Linked DNA regions of Homo sapiens: region 2 is linked to region 1. A link means that fine-mapping ties the variant in region 1 to the expression of a gene that starts in the linked region. Tissue or cell type: prefrontal cortex. Region 1 holds a variant in brackets; the other region holds the start of a gene. All regions are shown on one strand. Distances are between the middles of the regions. Region 1 overlaps WDR64 (WD repeat domain 64). Region 2 holds the start of WDR64 (WD repeat domain 64).

Evidence for each region.
Region 2: WDR64 starts here. The variant in region 1 is fine-mapped to the expression of WDR64 in prefrontal cortex (GTEx, PIP above 0.99). The same link has a PIP of 0.9 or more in cerebral cortex.

Annotation. Positions count from the first base shown.
Region 1 is chr1:241,688,394-241,692,790 of GRCh38, forward strand. The region is part of intron 8 of WDR64 (WD repeat domain 64); the gene reads left to right. All of the region lies in intron 1 of LOC124904603 (a long non-coding RNA gene), which reads right to left. Among named protein-coding and RNA genes, the nearest start is that of WDR64, 38 kb to the left of the region's middle. The variant G/T (reference allele first, on the strand shown) is at 1,942.
Region 2 is chr1:241,650,475-241,654,871 of GRCh38, forward strand. It overlaps WDR64 (WD repeat domain 64), which reads left to right and starts at 1,807. Exons shown (of 28, transcript NM_001367482.1): 1 at 1,807-2,155. The coding sequence starts at 2,011.

The DNA of each region.
Region 1 (4,397 bases):
TGAGTTGTACGCTTACAATGAGTGAATTTTATGATATGCAAATGTTATGATACCTATTGGGGTATTACATACCCTAATAAAGATGTCTCAGAAAAGCTCATCGAGACTCCTGGCTGCCTTCCAGTCTGGCATGTAAAGAGCTTGGAAGTTGCCATTCCATCCTAACAAGTAAAAATGTAACAAACTAAAAAATAAATAATTTTTCTTAGATCCATCAGAGAAGTAAGGTCACAAGGCAGTTTTGTTGCCCCCACATTGGAGAGACAGAGGGGCAAACACTGGGAATCACAACTTACTGGAGCAGAAATTCATGGGCAGGAACCCCCTGAATAACCAGTATAGGGCAGGAAAACCTAAATTGTAATGGACAAGTGCTCAGCATGGACAATTTTAGAGTTAAAAATTCCAGGGGTGCCCAGTCATAGGGGCCCCTATGCTTTTGTGAGTTTTACTTCCAGGAGTTCAACAGATTCTTAAAGTGAGTATCAGTGAAAAATTCTCTCTTACTTCTGGCGGAGGGGAAGGAAAAGGCACCATTTTGAAACGTGCCAGAACATGTTGTTCTTTCCAAGGTATGCCCTCAAGAGAAACTATGTTATCAGAGTCTAAGCTATTGGAACTTTGTCAGGGAATAACTCACAGAGGGAAGGAAAACATCCACTCTAACCTCTGGTCGCACCTAAGAGGGAGGGTGAGGAAGACTGACAAGCACTTGTGAAATTCGCAATCCAGACACACAGGCTCATCAAAAGAAGGAGACTTACTCACAGGATTCACCTTCCCCCACAGCTTACTGACATGTTACTAATGGCCTATTTATAGCAGTTCCCTTTACCCAGTAAATCATGTCCAGCTATCAAGAAAAAAATTACAAGGCATACTAAAAGGCACAAAACAGATTGTCAGAGTGATCAAAAAAACAAGACCCAACTATATGCTGTCTATGAGAAACACACTTTAAATATAAAGACACATATAGGCTAAAAATAAAAAGATGCAGAAAGATATACTATGCTAAAACTTATCAAAAGAAAGCAGAAGAAGCTATGCTAGTTTTATATAGAACAGATATCAGTGCAAGGAAAATTGTCAGGGATAAAGAAGGGCATTACATAATGATAAAGGGGTCAATTCTTAAAGATGCTCTGACAATCCTTAATGCAGATGCACCTAACAACAGAGCATCAAAATTAATGAGGCAAAAACTACAACTCCAAGAGACAGAACAAGCATCAGAATCAGATGCAGACATGGCAAGGAGGTTGGAATTATCAGAATGGGAATGTAAGACAACTACAATTAACAGGCTAAGGGCTCGGATAAAGCAGGCAGCAGACAAGAACAGACGGGCATTGTAAACAGAGAGATGAAAATTCTAAGAATAAAAAGTTCTAAAGATCAAAAACACTGATAGAAATGAGTAACGCCTTTGATGGGCTCATTAGTATACCGGACGTAGCTGAGGAAAGAATTTATAGAAGATTCAAAAACAGAAAGCAAAGAGGAAAAAAACTGAAAAAACAAAACAAAACAAAAAAAACCATAGGATATCCAAAAACTGTGGGCAACTGTGAAAAGTGTAACATATGTGTGATGAGAACACCAGAAGAAGAAAGGGAGAAAGGAAGAAAAGGTACATTTGAAGTAATGACTAAGAATGTCCACAAATTAAAATGAGACACCAAACCCCAGATCCAGTAATATCAGAAAGCACCAAGAAGGATAAATGCCAAAAAATAACTATACCTAGGCATATCATGTTCAAACAGCAGAAAAGTAAACATAAAGAAAAAAACTGGCTGGGCGCAGTGGCTCACACCTGTAATCCCAGGACTTTGGGAGGCCAAGGTGGGTGCATCACAAGGTCAGGAGTTAGAGATCAGCCTGACCAACATGGTAAAACCCCGTCTCTACTAAAAATACAAAAATTAGCTGGGCATG[G/T]TGGCGCACACCTGTAATCCCAGCTACTCAGGAGGCTGAGGCAGGAGAATTGCTTAAACCTGGGAGGCGGAGGTTGTAGTGAGCCGAGATCACACCACTGCACTCCACCCTGGGCGACAGAGGGAGACTCTGTCAAAAAAAAAACAAAAACTTGAAATGAGCCAGAGGGGAAAAAAACAACTTATCTGTAGAAAAGCAAAGACAAGAATTACTTGTGATTTTTCCTCAGAAATCATAAGCAAGAACAGTTGAGTGAAATATTTAAAGTGTTAGAAGACCTACCAGCCTAGAATTCTGTATACCGTGAAATTAGCCTTTAAAAGTGAAGGAGAAATAAAACTTTCTCGGACAAACAGAAATTGAGGAAATATGCTATCAGTATACCTGCTTTTCAAGAAAGGGTAAAAGAAGTTCTTCAGAGAGAAAGAAAAGCCGTAAGTCAGAAACTTGCATCTATATAAAGAAAAGAACAGCATCAGAGGAAGAAAAAGTAAAGGTAAAATAAAAATTGTTATTTTTGTTATTCTTAACTTTTCTAACAGATAATTTGTTCAAATAATAATGACAGCAATGTATTCAATTATATACACAATATATACACATATAAACATATATGTATGTATATATGGTATATTTGCTATGTGTAAGCAAAATAAATGACAGCAATAATACAAATAATGGAAGGAATTAGGATTTTTGTTTATTTTAATATACTTGTACTGCCTGTGTAGTACAGTGTTACTTGAAAGTGGACTTGGATTAGTTGTAAATGTATATTGCAAATGATAGGTCAACCACGAAAAATTGTTTTTTAAAAAATGTGTAACTTATATTCTAAGAAAATAGAGAAAATGAAATCATGTAAAGTGTTTATTTTAAAACACAAAAGGCAGAAAAAGAGTAAAAGACAAAAATAGAAACAAAGAAAAGCAGCAATTAATAGAAAACAATAACAAATATAGTAGATATTAATCCAACTATGTCAATAATTACTTTAAAAGTCAATGGTCTAAATACAGTAGTTAAGAGACAGAGATTGTCAGAGTGATCACAAAACAAGACCTAACTCTATGTTGTCTATAAGAAACCCACTTTAAATATAATGGCACATATAGATTAAAAGTACAGGGATAGGGTAAGATATACCATGCTAACACTTATCAAAAGAAAACAGGAGTTACTATAAAAACACTTAGCAAAGTAGGAATAGAGGGAACATCATCAACTTGTAAAAAACATCTACAAAAAACCTCCAGTTAACATCATCTATAGTACTGGACAGTTTTCCCACTAAGATCAGGTATAGCATGTTTGCACAATACAAGGTTATTATATACAAGTCAATAACTTTCCTATATCCTAACAATTAACAAGTGGCATTTTAAATTAAAAACATAGGCTGGGCACAGTGGCTCATGCCTGTAATCCCAGCACTTTGGGGGGCCAAGGCGGGCAGATCACCTGTGCTCAGGAGTTCAAGACCAGCCTGGCCAACATGGTGAAACCCTGTCTCTACAAAAATACAGAAATTAGCCAGGCATGATGGTGGGTGCCTATAATCTCAGCTACTTGGGAGACTGAGGTGGGAGAATTGCTTGAACCCAGGAGGCAGAGGTTGCCGTAAGCCGAGATTGTGCCATTGCATTCCAGCCTGGGCAACAGAGCAAGACTCCATCTCAAAAAAATAAAAAAATAAAAAAAAAAAAAAGAAACACAATGCCATCTACATTCGCATTTGAGAATGAAATACTTAGGTATAAGTCTAACAAAATATGCAAGATCCAAATGAGGACAACCACAAAACTCCAATTAAAGAAATCAAGGAATTAAATGAAGAGATATTCCACGTTCATGAATAGAAGACTCACTATTGTCAAGATACCAGTTTTTCCCAACTTGATATGTAGAGTCAATGCGATCTCACCCAAAATTCAGGAAGTTATTTTGTGAATCTTGACAAGTTCATTTTAACATTTATATGGAAAAGCAAAAGGTCTTGAGTATTCATCACAATAATGAAGAGGAAGAAACAAATCATAGGACTGACAAGTCAAGACATAAAGCTATAGTAATAAAGATAGTGCGGTATTGTAAAACAATGGAAAAAATAGATCAACAAAGCAGAAATAGACCCACATAAATATAGTCAACAGATCTTTGACAAAGGAGCAAAGGGAATACAATGGAGCAAGATATTCTTTTTAACAAATGGTTCTAGAACAAAGAAATAATTGATGAGCTGTACTTCATTAAAATTGAAACCTTCTGCTCTGCAAAAGACTCTGCCAAGAGAATGAGAAGACAAGACACAGACTGGAAGGAAGTATTTGCAAAAGACATATCTGATAAAGGACTGTTATCCAAAATATACAAAAAATTATTTCAACTTTATAATAAGTAAACCAACAACCCAATTGAAAAATAAACAAAAGATCTGAATAAATACTAAGATACAC
Region 2 (4,397 bases), 38 kb before region 1:
AGTAAAAGCCAAAGTCCTAAAACAGCCAATAAGATCCTACGTGATCTGGATGCCACCCCCTGACTCTCTTGCCTTCTCTCTCTACCTCTCTCTCTCATCCCACACCACCTCAGTCACACTGGCCTCTGTCGTTTCTCAGATATGTGAAGCACACACCAATCTCAGGACTTTACGCCTGCTGTCCCTAGAACATCCTTCTACCATTTATCCACATGACTTGCTACCTCACTTCTTTCAGGTTTCTGCCCAGAAATCTTTCTATTAATGGGGAATTCCCTGATCTCCCTACCTCTTTTACTTTGATTTTTACCCCCACCCTAATACACACAAAATTCCTCTCTCTTCGTAGCACAATTGCTCACTGATACATTATTTATTTGTTTGTCTGTCTTCTGCATTAGTCTATAAACTTGAGAAGCTATTTTATTCACTGCTGTATCCTTAGTGTCTAAAACAGCCTCTAGCATGAAGTGTGTATTCAGTAAATATTTCCTAGATGAATTAATGGTGAATGCATTAGAATTGTAGGAAGAGTGGTTCTCCAGACATCACTGTACAGTGGTTTGAAAGCTTTAAAGGAAAAAGGAGGAGAAACAAATGGGGTTGGGGGATTTTTCTTTAAATAAAATCTTACTGCGCTCTCCTAACAGATAGTTAGAGGTGGACACCAAGAAGACAGTACTGGAATTGGAGGTGCTCTGAAATGCCATCTGCTTCATCTCTGAATGCAAGTTCTTGAAGAATGTTTTAAAAGATGGACTACCAAGGGGTAGGAAATTTATCTAACTCACCTAAGCCATAGGAAGTTAACTAATTGTTGAGAAACATTAAACAACTTCTCCTTCCCATAAAAAGTTGAAAATTGGAAAACCGGAGTCAATAGCATTTGGACTAAGTCGGATTGGAGATTGCAATGACTGGGAAGGAGATGTGCAGAAAGGCCTCTTCTAATTCATCTGACCTCTTACCTTGAAAAGCTGTCCTCATAATCAGAAGCCACTCCTTCCTTATCCTTGGCTCACTTTATTATTTCAATCGAAGGACAATGCACAAAGGAAGAAGAGCATTTGTATTCCCTATGACCTCTAAAAATGTTTGTGGTAGAAATGACAGGTGCTGAAATACATTTCATCTTTAGAAGTTCGAATTTCCATATCCAGTACAGTGGCAAGAATAAGTGTGAATATTACTTTTTTTTTTTTTTGAGAGGAAGTCTCACTCTGTCACCCAGGTTGGAGTGCAGTGGTGTGATCTCAACTCACTGTAACCTCTGACTCCCAGGTTCAAGTGATTCTCTTGCCTCAGCCTCCTGAGTAGCTGAGATCACAGGTGCCCGCCACCACATCCAGCTAATTTTTGTATTTTTAGTAGAGACGGGGGTTTCACCATGTTGGCCAGGCTGGTCTTGAACTCCTGACCTCAGGTGGTCCACCCACCTCGGCCTCCCAAAGTGCTGGGATTACAAGAATGAGCCGCCGTGCCTGGCCAAACTTTACTTTCCGCGGTATTGTGAGGAAGGCAAAAGGTTTGAGGTGAGAAGAGATACACGAGGGAGAAAGTATTACCCAGTTTTCTTACTTGTTATTTACTCATTCCTTTTCCCTCTCAAGCAGTATACACAACACACACATGTGCACGCGCACACACACACACAGTCTGTGGGGAAAAAAATATCTCAATCTCCTCCTTATGAAGGAAGTAGGATGTTACAGAGATATTATGATGCAATGAGGACCCTATGAAGGACACTGATGACATTGTGAGGTCAGGATTTTTACTGAAATGTTTGTCTGTATGAAATGCATCAGACCTAAATCAGCTTTCCTCCCTGCTAACATCCTAGTGGCAACTCTTACTCCTACCCGCACTATGGGATTTTAAGATCAAAGGAATTAGACCTAGGGCAAAAACTGAGACAGCAGGGAGGCACTGTAACAACTGGAAAGTTTTCCAAATTGGTAAACTTGCAGTATTCTTTCTGTACAGAAGTAAAAGATCCCCTATGTCCCTATGGATATCAGGAAGGAAAAGCGTCTCAACATGGCACTTCAGATGAGCAATTTCAAAAAGGCTTTGAACAGGTTTGAAAAATTGGTTGAACAAACAGCAGCCCAGAAAAGAGATGAAAGAGCAGGCTTATTTATCCATAAAGAAGGTAAGATCAGTGATTACACGATAGTCCAATTGGGTCTGTTGGTTAGAACTGGAAAATGTTTTAAGCCATCAGAGAGAAGCATCAGAGCTTAATGTGAAAGAATGGGTGCTGAAAGGGGATGAAGACCTCAGTTCTTGTTCTTTCTCTGTCCCTAAATAACAAAGCGGACATGAGGAAGCTTTTGTTTTGTTTTGTTTTTGTTTTTGTTTTTTTTTTTTACTTCTCTGAACCGAAGTTGCTTCAATTGTAAAACTATGGGATTGGATTAAATGACGTCCAGTGTTCTTCTGTAGACGCTGCCATTTGATGGCTCACTGGTTGACCTGGGATGCTCAGTAATGTATAGCACTGCTTTTTCTTAGCCTAAAGATATCATGAGACCATAAAGACTTTCATAAGAAGTGCAGCTTCCTGCCTCACCATGATTCCATTGTCTTGGCCACTCTCCATATCTCTAGGCAGGAATGATCTTGAGGATGCAAGCTAAGGAGAATATGGTGGACAGTGGTCTTACAGGAGGATTTGCAGCAGAGATGCCAGTGCATAGACAAGATTCAAGGGGAGTGGTGTAGTGTACAGCTTTGGCGTATTGAGGACAGCTGTGAAAAATAAAGCTACATGGCAGAGTGAAAGACTAACAGAACAAACCCTGCTGTTGCAATGAAAGGAGCAGAGCCCATATAATTGCTAAAGGGATAGTATAGCCAGCCTCTGAGTGTGCCAGGCTGCATAGTAATTTGTAAGTGAAAATCTTGACTTTGGGTGTTCAAACCCAAGCTGGTATTAATTGAATAGTATTTAATAATTTATAGTCATGTTAATCAATGTCATTATGTTCATTTTATTTGTGGAAAAAATGGGAGCTGAAGATAAATCATTTGCCCAAGTTACCCAAATTCTTTTCTTTTCTTTTCTTTTTTTTTTTTTTTCTGAGACGGAGTTTCATTCCTATTGCCCAGGCTGGAGTGAAATGGTGCGATCTCGGCTCTCTGCAACCTCTGCCTCCCAGGTTCAAGTGATTCTCCTGCCTCAGCCTCCCAAGTAGCTGGGATTACAGGCACCCACCACCACACCCGGCTAATTTTTTGTATTTTTAGTAGAGACGGGGTTTCACCATGTTGGCCAGGCTGGTCTTGAACTCTTGACCTCAGGTGATCCACCTGCCATGGCCTCCCAAAGTGCTGGGATTACAGGTGTGAGCCACCGTGCCCGGCCAAAGTCACCCAACTTCTAAGTGTTAAAGCTAAGACTTGGACCTTTTGGATATGCTTTTTCGGTGATTGGGAACTTGACTGGGCCTTCTAAACTACTCAACAAAACTTGCATTTTTTCCTAGTCAGTTTGTTTTACCTCTCTCTAATTGGTTTTTCAAACCCTTGACACTTTTTCTGAATTCTCTATGGGATGTCTGCTTCTCTCAGCCAAGTTTTCTACGTCATAAAAGAAAGCAAGGTCAAAAGACAAGAATTCTCTCAAACCCCCCTTTTCCACTTCTGAATCACTGAAAGCAGCAGCTGTCCTTTCTATTTCTCCTCCCCTTCAAAGCTATCAGTTTGCTGCAGCAGCTTCAAAATCTCCTTTTCTACTGGATTTGTCCTCTCAGTCTAAAAATATACTCAAGCATCATGACCTTGACTTTCTCTTTTCTTTAAGCTACCACTGTATGCCTCTCCTTTCCTTCTCCACTGAATTTCCTGACAATATCACCACTTAACTTTCAATCTACTCAGGTCTGGCTTCTCTGATCACTTTGCTGAAAATGCTCTAACCAAGCTATGTGATAAGCTAATATAGTTGCCAAATTCAATAAATTGTTTTCATTTTCCAGCCTACTTGGCCATTGCACTAGATTAACACTGTTAGCTGCCTCTGCTTCAAGAAACTTCCTTATCCTGCGTCTTTCATCACATCATTCTTATTTTTCCCATCTCAATTCTTTCTTTGCTTCTTTTTCTCCTTGAGCTTTGCCTACTGTGTTCTCTCTCAGTCTTAGAGCATAGCTACCATCTAACTAGTTTCCTAAGCCAGATATCTTGGTATAGGCTGTATAGGCTGAGCATCCCTGATCCCAAAATCCAAAATCTAAAATGCTCCAAAATTCAAAACTTTTTGAGAGCTGACATGAGATAGGGGCATATTAATATTTGCTTTCTGATGATTCAATGCATACAAACTTTGTTTCATGCACAGAATTATTAAAACTATTGTATAAAATTACCTCCAGGCTATATGTATAAGGGGT